Regions from separate parts of the Homo sapiens genome. Here region 2 is linked to region 1. Evidence: fine-mapped expression QTL. Tissue or cell type: whole blood. Region 1 holds a variant in brackets; the other region holds the start of a gene. All regions are shown on one strand. Distances are between the middles of the regions.

Region 1 (8,107 bases):
ATGTCTAGGAGTGGGAATTACTGGATGAGGGTATACATATATTTGTCTTTAGAAGATAAGGACAAAAACTGCTTTCCAAAGTGGTTATATGAGTATTGATATTCCTTCCAGCTATGTATAAAAGTTGCCACTGCTTCACATCCCACCATTTTGTACTGTCAGTCTTTTTATTTTTATTTATTAAAATTTTTGTATAGGGCAGCAGTCTGGGCCAAAAATGGTTCAGAATGCTCCTGTCAATCTTTTTAATTTTAGCCATTCTGGTGAGTATGCAGTGATATTTCCTTGTGATTTTAATTTGCATTTTCTGATTAACGAGGTTGAGTATCTTTTCATAAGTTTTTTGGCCATTGAATATCCTCTTCTGTCAGATCCCTAAGTCTCTTGCCCATGTTTTTATTGGGTTGGCTTTTTCTTATTGATTGGGGTTCTAGATAGATTGGTAATGATTTTTATGTATGGTGGAAGGTAGGAATTTTAAAAAAAATTTTTAATTCTTTTAAAGCAAATTTTTTTTGAGACACGATCTTGCTCTATTACCCAGGCTGGAGTGCAGTGGCATGATCATGGCTCACTGCATCCTTGACCTCCTGGGCTCAAGCGATTCTCCCACCTCAGCCTCCCAAGTAGCTAGGACTACAGGTGTGCACTACCACACCTGGATAATTTTTATATTCTTTAACTCATGGCCTCAAGTGATCCTCCCACCTCAGCCTCCCAAAGTGTTTGGATTACAGGTGTGAGCCACCACTCCCTGCCTATTTTTTATACGAATATTTAACTTTTCCAGCATGATTTATTAAGAAAAGGCTATTCTTTCCCTACTGCTCTGAAATTCCCAATGGTCGCAAATTAAGTGTCCACATATATAGATCTGTTTCTGGGTTCTTTATTCTTTTGCATAGATCTACTTTCCACACTTGTTTCAATGCTGTATTATCTTAGTTACTGTTATAATAAGACTTAATACCTGGTAAAGCAAGTCTTCCTATCTTGGTCTTCGAGAGTATTTTAGCTACTCTTTGTCCTTTGTATTATCATATTAGAATCAGTTTATCAAGATTCACATTAAAAAGTTGTTAGGATTTTAATTTTATTTGCATTGAAACTATAGTTTTGTCATCCATTATAGTAGCCACTAGCTACATATGGCTACTGAGCACCTGAAATGTGCCAATCCACATTGTAAGTGTAAAATACACATTGAATTTCAAATGAGTATGAAAAAAATTAGTTTACAACAAATACCTCAATCAATTTTTAACATTGGTTACATGCTGAAATAACATCTTGGGTACACTGGGTTAAATAAAATATTACAATTAACTTTCCTTTTACTTTTTTATTTTTTTTATTTTTTGAGATGAATTTCATTCATCACCCAGGCTGGAGTGCAGCGGCATGATCTTAGCTCACTGCAACCTCCGCCTCCCGGGTTCAAGTGATTCTCCTGCCTCAGCTTCCCAAGTAGCTGGGATTACAGGTGTGTGCCACCACGCCCAGCTAATTTTTGTATTTTTAGTAGAGACAGGGTTTTGCCATGTTGGCCAGGCTGGTCTCGAACTCCTGACCTCAGGTGATCCACCCGCTTTGGCCTCCCAAAGTGCTGGGATTACCTGCCTCTTTTTACTTTTTTAAATGTAGGTACTAGAAAACTTAAAATTACGTATGTGGTTCGCATTACTTTTCTTTTTTTTTTTTTTTTTTTGAGACAGGGTCTCGCTCTTCACTCTGTTGCTCAGGTTGGAGTGTAGTGGTGTGATCAGGGCTCACTGCAGTCTTGACCTCCCAGGCTCAAGTGATCCTCTCACCTCAGCCTCCCAAGTGGCTGGGACTACTGGCACGTGCCACCACATCTGGCTAATTTTTTTATCTTTTATTTTTGTAGAGATGGGGTTTTGCCATGTTGCCCAAGCTGGTCTCAAACTCCTGGGCTCAAGCAATCTGCCCACTTCGGCCTCCCAAAGTGGTGGGATTATAGGCATGAGCCACCATGCCTGGCTGGTTCACATTATATTTCTAGTGGATAACACTGATCTATAAAAATGTTATCTTTACAACACTGGGTCTGTCATAACATGAACATGGTATATTCTTTCAAGTTATTTTGGTCTTTTAAAATTTCTTTAAATAAAATTTTCTGGTTTTTTTGCACAGAGGTCTTACACAACTTCTGCTAGATTTATCACTAGGTATCTGAGAATTTTTACATTGTTGTAAACACTGTCCTCTTTGAAAATTCCATTTTTTTTTTGAGATGAAATTTCACTCTTATTGCCCAGGCTGGAGTGCAGTGGCATGATCTTGGCGCACTGCAACCTCTGCCTCCCGGGTTCAAGTGATTCTCCTGCCTCAGCCTACCGAGTAGTTGGGATTACAGGCACCTGCTACCATGCCCGAATAATTTTTTCTATTTTTAGTAGAGACAGGGTTTCGCCATGTTGGCCAGGCTGGTCTCGAACTCTGGACCTCAGGTGATCTGCCTGCCTCGGCCTGCCAAAGTGCTGGGATTACAGGTGTGAGCCACTGTGCCCGGATAAAAATTCCATTTTCTATTCCTAGTATAGAGACATGGAATAGATTTTTGTTTATTGACCTTGTATCCAGTAACTTTGCTAAACTCTTATTAATTCTAAGAATTTATATGATCACTGGATTTTCTTTTCTTTTCTTTTCTTTTTTGAGACAGGGTTTTGCTCTGTCACCCAGGCTGGGGTGCAGTAGAACCATCTCAGCTCACTGTAGCCTCAAGCTCCTGGGCTCAAATGATTCTCCTGTCTTAGCCCCCATCTGCCACCCCACAAAGTAGCTGGGACTACAGGTGCTTACCAACATGCCTGGCTAATTTTTGCATTTTTTTGTAGAGATGGGGTTTTGCTATGTTGTGCAGGCTGATGACTGGATCTTCTATGGATACAGTCATGTTATCTAAATAATGATAATTTTATTTCTTCTTTTTAAACCTTATACTTTACTTTTTTGCTTGACTTACCATATTGGCTAGGACTTCCAGGACAATGTGGACAGAAGTGAAATAATGGGCATCCTTGCCATATTACAAATCCCAAAAGTAAAGCTTTCAGTATTTCACTATTAACATGAAGATAATATGAGTACTCTAAATCTACGCAGTCTGTTCATATTCAAACCACGTAATATTGATGAATTTCTTAGTTATTTCTTATACTACAGCCAACACTCTAAAATCTCATTTTTTAGTGTGAAACATTTATTTTATTTTACTTTTTTGAGATAGAGTCTCGCTCTGTTGCCCAGGATGGAGTGCAGTGGTGTGATATCAGCTCACTGCAACCTCCACCTCCCGGGTTCAAGGGATTCTCCCACCTCAGCCTCCTGAGTACTGCTGAGACTACAGGTGTGTACCACCATGCCCGGCTAAGTTTTGTATTTTTAGTAGAGATGGGGTTTCACCATGTTGGCCAGGCTGGTCTCAAACTCCTGATCTCAAGTGATCCGTCTTCCTTGCCCTCCCAAAGTGCTGGGATTACAGGCATGAGCCACAGCGCCCAGCCTGAAGCATTTATTTTAAAATCTCATCAAAACATCTATATTAAGGGAGTACTTACTTAAGAATCATAGTCATTGTTTCTTTTCGATCTTTTCCTTGGAAAGG[G/T]AGTGTACCAGTAAGCATTTCAAACTACAGAAAGGCAAAATAATCAGAAGTGTTAGTCAATAAATATAAAATCTGAAGGCCAGAAGGTAAAAAAAAAAAAAAGCATCATTTTAATTATAACCAAATATTCTAAAATTGCTACATAACAAGTGTTTTCTATTTCTACCATATTCGTTACTGAAGTTCTTGATAATTCCTAAAACAACTGAGCTATACAGTTTTTTTTTTTTTGTAGAAATCAATCACATTTTTATTTTATTTTTTTTTTGAGACAGGGCCTGGCTCTGTTGCCCAGGCTGGAGCCCAGTGGTGCAATCTCAGCTCACTGAAGCTTCCATCTCCTGGGCTCAAGCAATTCTCCCACCTCAGCCTCTCAAAGTGCTGGGATTAGAGGCATGGGCCACCATGCTCAGCTTCATCAATCACATTTCAAATGGCAATTTTAAAGTGTAGATATGTGAACAATTTGATAGATATGCCAATTTCATATGAACTTATTTATTTTTTTTGAGACGGAGTCTTACTCTGTCACCCAGGCTGGAGTGCAGTGGCACGATCTTCACTCACTGCAATCTCCGTCTCCTGGGTTCAAGTGATTCTCCTGCCTTAGCCTCCCAAGTAGCTGGGATTACAGGTGTGTGCCACCATGCCTGGCTAATTTTTTGTAGTTGTAGTAGAGACAGGGTTTCACCATGTTGTCCAGGCTGGTCTTACAGGCATGAGCCACCACGCCCAGCCTGATTTTTGTATTTTTAGTAGAAACGGGGTTTCACCATGTTGGCCAGGCTGGTTTCGAACTCCTGACTTTAAGTGATCCACCTGCCTCGGCCTCCCAAAGTGCTGGGATTACAGGCGTGAGCCACCGCGCCCGGCAGAACTTACTATATATTTTTTGAGACAGAGTCTCGCTCTGTTGCCCAGGCTGGAGTGCAATGGCATGATCTTGGCTCACTGCAACCTCTGCCTCCCAGGTTCTAGCGATTCTCCAGCCTCAGCCTCCTGAGGTGTGTGCCATCCTGCTCAGCTACTTTTTGTATTTTTAGTGGAGATGGGGTTTTGCCATGTTGGCCATGCCGGTCTTGAACTCCTGACGTCAGGTGATCTACCCGCCTCAGCCTCCCAAAGTGCTAGGATTACAGGTGTGAGCCACTGCACTCGGCCAAACGAACTTATTTTAAGGGTCACTTACTAACAGATTTCTGGACCAGTTTCTCCAAAAGACCAAACACCATTAATGCTTTAGATTGTTACTATTAGCAGGAAATCTATGGTAATATTTTTTTTTGCCCTTTCAAATTAGGATGAGATAGACGCAGCTAACAGATTTCATAGTCCTTCTATACTGCATGCAATAATGTTTCTTGGTTATTTATTACATATGGCATAAAATAAAGAAAATAAAAACACCAGTTTCTTTAACATTCACTGCTGATCCTCACTTAACAATCTCCTTCCCCTCTAAAAAATCCCAAATTCAAACCTTACCATTAACACACCAAAAGACCACCAGTCAGCACTCTGAGTATGACCTCGACGATTAACTACTTCTGGAGCCATATACTCCACAGTTCCACAAAAAGAATATGCCTTCTTTTCATGGTCAATAGACTCTTTACTTAGGCCGAAATCTGCCAAAACAAATATCATAAATATCCTACATAAATTTGCACATGTAAATTTTAAACTTTGAGTTCTGACATTAATCATTTAAAATTTCTAATACAAGTTTTTTTTGTTTGTTTGTTTTTTGAGACAGAGTCTCGCTCTGTCACCCAGGCTGGAGTACAGTGACGCCATCTTGGCTCACTGTATCCTCTGCCTCCCGGGTTCAAGTGATTCTCCTGCCTCAGCCTCCCAAGTAACTGGGATTACAGGCGTGCACCACCATGCCCAGCTCATTTTTTTGTATTTTAAGTAGAAACAGGGTTTCACCATGTTAGCCAGGCTAGTCTTGAATTCCCGACCTCAAGTGATCCACCTGCCTCAGCCTCCCAGAATGCTGGGATTACAGGGGTGAGCCACTACGCCTGGCCCTAATACAAGTTTTTAATTTTAATACAGTGTATTACTCAATATTTGTACCACAATCAACCTTAAAGGAAAGTATATATTGTAGGAGAAAATATTTTAATAAAACGAGGATTTTTTTTTTACCTGTTAACTTGATGTGACCTTCTTCATCAAGAAGTATACTGAAAAAAACAAAGAAAATCTTTTAAGAACACTAAATAGAGATTTATAGAAGCTAAGACTGAAATTACATCCTTAAGCATCAGATCACCACATTTACTCTAAAACATTGCTTTAGACTGTGAATAAGATGGCAAAGGCAAAGGAGGAACAAATTATTTTTTGGACACACATTTATAACAAAGCCCAAAGGCAATGCCATAAACTTGTATTAATATGCCAGGGGCACTTGAAAATTATTAGGAAAAGAATCAAATCACCTGTACTCTTCCCAGCTGCTCTTTCTAATGCCTTTCTGCAGACGTAGTTTGACTAAACCCCCTAGTGCCTGCATTAATAGACAGAGGGTCCACACATTTAATTCAAAAACATCAGACATGTCATTCTCTTGGTTATTTTATTTTGCCTTTTTTTCCTTTTTGTGGAGAATAGGGTATCACTATGTTGCCCAGGCAGGTCTTGAACTGCTGGGCTCAAGCTATCTTCTTGCTTCTGCCTCCCTGAGTGCTGGGATTACTCCCTAAGGTGTGAGCCACTGCGTGCCCAGCTCTCTTGGTCATTTTAAAGGTATCTGACTCAATCATTGTTTCCTTATTTTTTTTTTCCTGACACAACCTACACAATCCTCTTCTCCTTCCCCATACTCCTTGTTTTTCATTGACCCCTCCCTTCACTATACATATTCTCCAGGGTTTTCTCTCTTCCCCAATAAACTGTGAGCTCCTAGAAGGTTTGACCTTATTCATCTTTATAGCTCAGTGTCTGGCAGTGTACAGTACAAACAAGAAATGTTGAATGAATAAGGCCTGTTTGCAAAGGGCCTACAGGGCATTCCAAATAGTTTGGGCTTCTTGTCAAGGACAAGGGAGACCATAAATGGTGTACATTCATGGAGGGTAGAGAAATTTACAGAGAAAATAAAGGGCATTTAGTGAGCTCACTGGGTCATGATAAAGAACAACTGGAGAATGACACTCAGGTTTCTGGCTTGAGCAGATACTTGAGTGGAGAGTAATGCTATTAATCAAGGAGCTACAGAAAGGAGAGAGTACTAAGCTGTAAGCCAATAATTGTGTTAAGTTGGTGCAGAAGTAATTAAAAGTAATGGCAAAAACTGCAATTGCTTTTGCACCAACCTAATATTTCTGGATAGGTATGGGATCAAGCAATAAACTGTTTCACTTATATTTAAAGCTATCCCACAATATAGGCATTTCCTTACTTTTATTTTAACTAAAAATGTGCAAGTCAAACTTTGTTATAAAATTTTACTATAACAAAAATATTACCAATCTTTCTATTTCATAAATGCAAACATAATTACAACAAAGTTTACCACTGAAGGTAATTCAGTAGGGACATGTTTTTCAAGTTTCTTTTATCATAAGCACCTGTTATGAAAAATATTAATATTGATTCTGCTTGATTATGAAGAGATCAACACATTTAGAGAGTATAAAGGGCATTATTAGGTACTGTAGAAATCATCCTCCCTTCTAGTGAATACATGAAAAACAGTTCTAAAAACAAAACTTCAAGTCATTCTCGGTAATTCTGAAAGAAAAAAGGATAATATGGCTGAAAGGGCATTAGTTACGCCTTCTGTAGCAAATGCATTCTTCTAAGATAACCATGCTTATACTGTATCTTTGAAAGAAAAAGTCAACTGTATCACTCTCAATAAACAACATTCCTTTTCAATGGTTACTAATTTTTAGTCATATTTATTACAACAGAGTTCTAGTTTAAAAGAATCTGAAAAACCCTTAACAGTTCATAAAATATTTGGCCTAAAAATTTAAATTTCTCCCAAGTTCTGTATGATGGTATTTACTTGTATAATTCACCAAGTAAGTGTTATTTCTAATTAATAGCATCATCTAGACATGTATGTTTAAGATCTTAATATAAGCAATCTTATTTACATCTGATCTTATTAAAGCCTTGAGACAGGGCTCATACTTTAATGTAACTTTATGACCAATGCCAATACAATGGTCTATGGTAAATATATTCAATTAAATAGTATAAAACACACATTTTTATGAATGTTTAATCTTATGTTTATAGTAATTTTTCTAAGGACTATATGCTTGAATATTCATTCTCACCAATAATTATATTTTGTGTCACAATAGTTATAAGTTGGGAAAATAATCAGGAAAACTCAGCAGTTATTTGGGGAATAAAAACAAAACCATATGAAACTTATCCAAAAACAATAAAAAAAACATAAAATATAAAAGCATAACAATTTCTAAATGATCACTTAGAAGAGTTCCA
Region 2 (8,107 bases), 81 kb after region 1:
CACAATATGTCAGGGCCAGGCATTGTGCTGAATGCTGAGGATTCAGAGAGGGGGGGAAAAATGTCTGCTTTCAAGAATTCACAGTGTACTAGGGATGAGACCATAAATGTAAACTCCTACACAGACCAATCCTGAAATCTTTTAACCTGGAGAGAAATATTTTGATGTATTCACTCAAGTAAATGACTCTAAAAAAAACTATGTTACTCTGGTAAAATACAATTATCTGATAGGAACCTACTGGGGGAGGAAACGGTATAATAGTGAAAATATTAGACCTCTGAGTGGAACTTTTCAACCTTTCCCTCACTGTCTTCAATATTTCCAAATTGTATCAGAAGTAATTTACTTGAAATAGCTGAACAAGCAAAGGAAATTAAATATCTAAAGGCAATTTGTTAGAATTTAATTTTAATAAATCTTGGCAACACTGGCTCTGTTTGACATACTTTATGCCAGGATAGCAAGAAAATTCTTTGAAAACAGCAAATTGTGGAATCCTATCTGTCAAGTTCTGGAAAACATGATAGTAACTGAAATAACAAGGCTTTACCAAATGAGACCTCTTATAATACTCTATTTGTTTCTGGAAAATAGATGACCTCTAACTACTGGCTTATTTATACCCCGAATTTTTCCACAAAAGATTTGGAACAGCTACCCTGATATAAAACGAAGCACATGAATTGTATCCACCTGGCTTTGAATTATGGCTCTGCCATTTACTATTTATCATCTTTGTACCTTTTAAATTCTGAGATTTGGTTTCCTAATCTATAACAATGGGGACCATAATCCTACCCTGCTGGGTCACAGGAAGGATAAAATGAAATAGTAATGTAGCACAGTACCTGGCATACAGTTGGTGCTAAATAAATATGTTTTGTCCTTCCTTATCCAAATGCATTCCAGATAGAAAAAGGATAAGGTGGAATTCTAAACGATATTGTTTTCCTATCACACTGATACATGCCAAGCAGAAATGTGGACTGATCTTGAGTTGCAATTGTTAATGTTTGTATGTAAAAGTCAGGCTCAAAGCAAATTTAATTTCTTTCCACAAGTTCAGTACTTTGCGAACATTTTATTAACCTTTTAGCTATATTATTTAATGCAAAAAATTTTCTGGGGAAAAATATGACGAGCTCTTGCATACTGTTTTTCACACTACCCATCTAAAGGATTATTAAACATCATAAATTTGGCTTTTTAATAAAATATTTATAGTATTAGTCTGGTTAACAATTTTAAATAAAGTTCTTGTGATTCTGCCAGTCTTAAAAACATGATTTCCTTTCTTTCTTTCCTTTTCTTTCAACATATATCAATGTCTTTTCCATTGAAGAGCAGCATTTAGTTCAGGTTTTACAAGTATGATCCAAGTCGCAAAATACTAAGCACCAATCATAAGCACTATTACAACTCTGCGTGCGTTAAGGAGAACAAGCAAAATTGTTATACAGCAGCGGAGGTGACTGGGGGAAAAAGTGAAAAGCGATTTGAACTGATCCCCCGCCCTCTCCATTATACCGGAGAATGCAAGTGTCCCGCATCTCAAGATTAAACTGAGCCTCGGTTTTACTGACGTAACCAGTAACCCTATCTACTTCTCACACTGCGGAGGCCGGCAGGGCAGCGGCTGCCGCCAAGCACACCACTCATCAGAGCCTGCCCCGTTCCACCCCCGCGTTTCAGTCATGCTTTCCAGAAATGGGGTCACTCACTCAGTAACTATTACACACACGCAGCCTATCATCCTGTAATCCCCTAAAGTCCGCTGCGGGGAGAGAAGGCAGCAAAAAGTCAAGAAGGAAGAATCACAGACGCGCCACCATCAGGAATTGATTTTCCACTCCGGAGAGGAGCGGTGATACCTTGGAACGGGTCTTGTCTGGATTATTTTCGCAGACCCCGAGTTGTTCTGGGATAGGGGCGGTTCAGGAAAGCTCGGTGTAGTGATGCGCCCGGGGAAATTCTGTTTTGCCCTGTTTGGGTATATTGTTTGGGTTTTGGGCACTAGGATGGGTGACTCAGGGACGGTCACCAGATCCCGGGCGAGGAAAACCAGAAAGCCTTTTACGGCGGCCGCTGATCTCCTTGAATATCACCCTCTCACCTCCATGGACAGGAAACTCAAGTTAAACTCACAGGGACGGGGGTCTAGCTCTGCGACCTCAGAAACGGAGGGGGTAGGGGACCTTAGGCTTCCGCTTTCTTCTTTGCAGCAGCAGAAACCGCTGCGGCAGACGAGGGGGAGGCAAAACCCTGCACCCCCTACCCGAAACCCCCACAGGTCGCCGCCGCCCGTGCCCCGCGCGCCGGTCTCCCCGCAGCAGCCCCTCCCTCGGCTGGACTCGAGAGTCCCTGCTCCCCGGTGAACCCGATCCCTACCCCTCCCTCATCTCCCAAAGTCGCCAAGGTCCGGGAAAGCCCCCGACCCGGCTGGGCCAAACTTCCCAACTCCCCGCCGGCCCCCGCTCCGCCTCCCGCTTCCCCCACGCAAAGTTGATTAAAATTGGCTTCTTGCAAAGCCCCAGCGCCCACTCCAAACCCCACGCGCCACCACACTGGCAGCCCCCCGAGCGAGGGAAGGAGGTGAGGGTGAGGATGGAAGGAACAGACAGACCGGCCAATAGACCCACCCCAACAACCCAAACCAAAACCCTGAGCCCGGGGGAAAGACGCGAGCGGGATCAGAACGGGCCGAGTGGCCAGCTCCGGGGAGCGAAGCGAGCCGGCGGGGGCGCGAGGAGGAGATGCGCCGGCCCCGGCCGCCCTGCTGCACTCACCTCAGCGCTGTCGGACGGGCTCTCCACAGCCATCTTCTGCCACGGGTCCGCCAGCTGCGCCAGCGGCATCTTCCCCCCCGGCCCGCCGCCTTCACCGCCTCCTCCCTCCCCGCCCGCCCCACGGCCGGCCCCGCTCCGTCGCCGCCCGAGCCCCACGGCAGCGGCGGCGGCGGCGGCGGCGGCGGCAGCGGCAGCGGCAGCGGCAGCAGCAGCAGCAGCGGCGGCGGCCCCAGAGAGGGCTCGACGCCGACGCCGACCGCCCGAAAGCCGCGCGCCTGGCCAGAGACGCCCGCGCGCTGAGCGAGAGCCTCGCGCCTCCGCTGGGCACCGGGTCTCGCCCCTTTCTTCCTCTCCTCCTTCCGCCGCCGGGACTACGGCTCCGCCCCCCCCGCCGGTTCCCGCGCCCGCTCCCAGCAGAACAGCGACCGCCGCGCGCTCCCCCACTTCCGCTCACAACATGGCGCCTAAGCGATACCTGTCTCTCAAAGCGAGGCTCGGCCGCCGCCACCACCGCCGCGCGCACCCAGGGGCTGGGCTAGTGGAAGACACGCCCCCGGCCGCTGCGCTCCGCTCCTCCCTCTTCCCACCCCCCTCCTTCTGCGCCCCAACCTCAGCTTCTGGGCCTCGCCTACTTTCAGGAAGGGCGAGCCCAACAGATCTGGGGGCGTCGGCGGGAGGCGGGGGAAAGAAATGGGAAAGGCAGGAGGGGCGAAGGCTGGGAGCCTTTCACCGCCAAGGGTCCAAGGAGGTCGGAGGCTCCTTGGGAATGAGGGAGAACAGTGGTCCCCGCCCAGCTGGGGAGGGAGGTGGGCAAAGTACCGGGGGCGCAGTCCCGAGCCAAGGACCCGGGGAGGGGTGCGGAGTGTCTTTTCGGCTTGTCTCCTCCGGGGGTGCGTGCGTGCGGACGCGCCTAGTCTCTGGGCGCATCCCGTAATGGCCCAAGACCCTCCCTCTTCAGGGTCACATGCTGGGAAATCACCTGCCCCCCATCTCCCCCGACGGAGGCAAGGGAGGCTTCGTGCCTAGGAGCCTCCTGGGGGCTCGGCTCCCGGTTTGATTCAAGTCTTTTCAAGTTGACGCTCTTTTGTTAAATTGTGGCTATTTGGGATTAATTCCTCTTGTATTAGTCGCTTCCCCCGCACCGCCCCCAGCCCAAATTCTCCTCCCCAAGTGCGCAGAGCTCTCGGCCTTCAGCTGCGACCCTGGAACCGCTGCCCCCCGCCCCACGTCTGCTACCTAAATCTTCAAGAGGGGAAAACAGGGAGGTTCCTTAAGGCTGTCCCTCTCGGTAGAGGTTGGAGAATTATTTAAAAATATCTTGTAGGCAGGAGCGCGGGGTTCCTGCTCCTCTGTTGACTTTAAATAAGAGATTAGATTTAAAAATCAGGCTGGCCGTGGGCGGAGGAGGAGGAGGAGGGGGACAGAGGGAGGGGAGGGGTTCTGACTCCTCCTCCTGCCCAAGATGGGGAAGCCCTGGATTAAGGAAACCCAATGCCCCGACGGCGACGGAGCCCCACAGGACGGCGAGAGCTTTGGGGGGAAGGCCTGGGCGTCCGGGGTGCGTCCCAAGAGGACTCGACCCTGTGTTCACTGCGCCAGGAGCCGCTGCGCGCTAAGTGCGCCCGGGCAGAAATGTGTAAAAGTCGCAGGGCTGAGTGGAAAGCTACTGCAGCCCCTGGCTAGTCGCCCAGCGAGGGGAAGAGAAAAAGCAAAGGGAGATCTCCGAGCCGGCCTGTCCCTTCAAACCCTCAGGCCGTGGCCCAGGCATCCCGGTCTTCCCACGCCCAGCGACCACGGCGCGTCCGCTGCTGCGCTCCCAGCGCACGCCTATTAACAGCTTCCTTTCATCCTCCCGGGACCCAGACACCTGGAGAACCCTCGCCTGCCTCCCTAAGCAGGTGTGAGGATGAGATTAGAGCCCCAAACCCAGCCGGCCAGGTCTGCGCGGGCGGTGCGAGGTTTCTCGCTGGGCCTGCGAGAGGCAGGTGTTGGGCTCTTTCTGCTGCCTTCGCCAGCGCGCCCCTTGGCACAGGCTCGAGGCCGGGGAACCTCGTGGCCATTTAGGGAGGCTCCAACTGTTTAGGGAGCCTGAGAAGGCGGCAGGAAGTCCTCGTTGCGCGCCTTCTCCCGAAGCTTTGGACTCAGGGGGACCGCTCAGGTTGGACAACATCTGGGCAGACTCAACGTGGTCTGGGGAAGAAGGCGAATGGGGCCACTTGGCTCTTGCCTTTGTCACTTCCCTTCACATGCTATATTCAGGTGTTGCAAATCCAACCTGGGCCCAAACTCAGCTAATTTGGCAGCACCTTCTCTGTGTAATTCCCGACGGTAAAACGTGCTTGCAGAAGTTTGGAGGATAAGGAGTTGTGTACTATTTTGCATTTATGTACAAAATGCTTTATTCATTTACATTGCAGAGTCACATGACCACTCCTTATAGCGAAAAGAAGTTCGTTAATTCGGTTGGCTTAAAGTAAATTAGCTCCCCCTACCCTTTGATCAATTATTTCAGTTAACATTCTTGCATTAGTAAAAACATACATAGTTGAAGAGAGACCGTTATGTGGCTAACACTGTTCAGTGCTAATTACCCCCACGCAAAGAATGAATATTTTAAAATAAAGCAAATTGTATGCCATTTTCAGTATCAACTTTTATTCATCTCTGTTAACCTTGAGAACCAGAGGAATAACTTTTAAAACAGAGTTACCTGATCTGTAAAAGTAATGTGAGCGGTGGTCACGTTTCAGTGAATTAAGCATTACATGAACTGTTAATAATGGGTTAAAGTGGCCGGGTGCGGTGGCTCACCCCTGTAATCCCAGCACTTTGGGAGGCCCAGGTGGGCGGATTACCTGAGCTCAGGAGTTCCAGACTAGCCTGGCCGACATGGTGAAACCCGGTCTCTACTAAAAATACAAAATTAGCCGGGAGTGCACACCCGTAATGCCAGCTACTCGGAAGACTGAGGCAGGAGAATCGCTTGAACCCGGGAGACGGAGGTTGCAGTGAGCCGAGATCGTGCCATTGCACTCCAGCCTGGGCGACAAGATCAAAATTCTGTCTCAAAAACAAACAAACAAACAAACAAACAAACCAGTTAAAGTACCACTACCACAGATGTCTTGCACAGAGGATCAATTTGATAAGTATTTATGAATTGATTGAATTTATTTAGAAGAACATTATTCTTCCTTTTGCCCCAAAAGCAAAGAAAATGATTTTTTGTTGTTAACAATAAACTTTTTCTCTTTTATTTCTTCTATTAAATCCAAGAGCAGTGCAACCACTCTCTTTGGTTAGGAGAATTTGGAAAAATCAAATGAGGCTGGAGGATTTTTCTTGAAGGTGGTAGCAAAAAGAGTTACTTGAACATAGAAGCTGATATTGCCCTAAGCAGGATTACTTTTCCCCTCTGTTTAACAAAGGAAAACTCTAAGTGTAGCTGTTCAAAGAATAGCTGCCTCAGATCGCCAGACCTGCATGGGTTAATACGGTGGTTAGTAGCCACACATGGCTACTGAGCACTTCAAATGAGGTTGGCTGGTCAAAGTTGAGATGTGCTGTAAATGTGAAGTTCTTTCTAGATTTCAGACTTAGTAAAAAAAAAAAAAAAAGAATATAAAGTATCTCATTAATAATTTTTTATATTCACAACATGTTGAAATGATATTTTTGATATATTGGGTTAAATAAAATATTTCATTAAAATTAATTTCACCTTTTAAAAACTTTTTAATGTGGCTACTATAAATGTATACTTACATATGTGGCTTTCGAGACTTTTATGTATTCCTACAAGTCATATAATGTTAAGTGATATCTTCAGATTCCAATGTCTTTTTGGCTTCCTTAGTGCAGAATCAGCAGAAAGGGCTGATTCAGTTACCTACTGATCCCCACCCTCCCCAACAAATCTCCCAGTCAGAACCAAAATATTGGAAAGTTCTTACTTGAAACTACAGTAGAGCGAAACAGCAAACCTCAGTAGAAAATCTGAAGGAGGTTTCCAAGAAATCATTCCTAATGTATGACGGGACAACTAGATTTAACCTCCTCTGCCCCCAACAATTTCCTGCTATAATTATAACCTTTGTATACAAGTTTAAATGGGCATTTATTTAACAAAATAACATTTGTTCAAAAAATAGAGTTACATCAGTCTGGAAAAGTTGCAAGATGACTAACTATGGCTCATGGCACAATCTCTACCTCATATACATCCAAAGTTCACAGCTCTGTACATATAGATTTGTCACTACTGTAGAAAATCCCAAAAGTGTAATCATCATCACCTCTAGGAAAAAGTTTTTTCCTTTCATCTGGATTATCCAAATTATATTATCCAAAGCATATTTATTTCGATTCATATTTATCCAAAGCCTATTTATTTTTTCACAAAAAAAGGAAAGGTAATAGCCAGAGACTATTTAACTTTCTTTTCAGAGAGAAAGAAAGGTAAGATTTAGGCTCAAATCTTATCTCATATAAGACAATAGTTTAACAAAATACATGGTTACATATGTTTCATGTGTGTGAATTTTGTTTTTTCCTTGAAATGTCTCCAATAAAAATTATTAAGGCTATTTTCCTGATTGACACAGATCTTAAAGAACAGGCATTTCTACATCAATTTGAACATTTTATTTGAGAAAATTCAAATTTTGGAAAATGTAAGGTTCTAGGTTCCCTTCCAGATACAAAGTTCAAAGATTTTAGAGTTGCATATGATGAAAGACAGTAAAATCTATAAAGGTGAAGACAATCTATAATACAAATACATGAAATGTTTAACATTCTTTCCAGTTAGGCAGGATGGGGTCATGATAAGAGCAGAGACAGGCCTGTGTCCAAACTTCAGGATTCTTTATCTTAGCTTCAGCTTTGCTTAGACCGGCATGTAGTTGCTGTTCAACAAATATTTGCAGAATAAACTTTGTTTTTCTCATCTGAAAATAGGAATAATAATACTTGCCTTGTATGATTGGTGGGAAGATTAAATGGAGGTAATGTCTGTAAAGCATTAAGCATGGTGCCTGCCACATAGGAAACATTCAATAAATGGAGGTATTGTTATCAGCTGCAGAAAGGGAGTACTCCTGCATACATAATGTAATTCAAATATCTCACTCTTGAAAGTTACCTCGTTCCATTTGCTGTGTGAGCATTTTATTGTAGTGTGATCTATTTCTTTAGGGCACTCTTGTATCACAAAAAATGATACTGTAAGTAACCTGTGAAATGCAAATAAAAGAATGTAGAGCAACTTACTCTTCTGTTTTTTGAGCTACATATGTTGAAATGCAAATGATTACAGG

The links. PIP is the estimated chance that this variant, and not a neighbour inherited with it, causes the effect.
Region 2: RPS6KA3 starts here. The variant in region 1 is fine-mapped to the expression of RPS6KA3 in whole blood (TOPMed, PIP above 0.99). The same link has a PIP of 0.9 or more in T cells and blood mononuclear cells.

What each region holds. Positions count from the first base shown.
Region 1 is chrX:20,182,709-20,190,815 of GRCh38, forward strand. It overlaps RPS6KA3 (ribosomal protein S6 kinase A3), which reads right to left. Exons shown (of 22, transcript NM_004586.3): 8 at 5,789-5,826; 9 at 5,120-5,262; 10 at 3,588-3,658. Among named protein-coding and RNA genes, the nearest start is that of EIF1AX, 45 kb to the left of the region's middle. The variant G/T (reference allele first, on the strand shown) is at 3,635.
Region 2 is chrX:20,263,775-20,271,881 of GRCh38, forward strand. It overlaps RPS6KA3 (ribosomal protein S6 kinase A3), which reads right to left and starts at 3,135. Exons shown (of 22, transcript NM_004586.3): 1 at 2,790-3,135. The coding sequence starts at 2,858. RefSeq lists an enhancer at 1,366-1,415 and silencers at 2,596-2,855, 2,976-3,195, 3,617-3,911.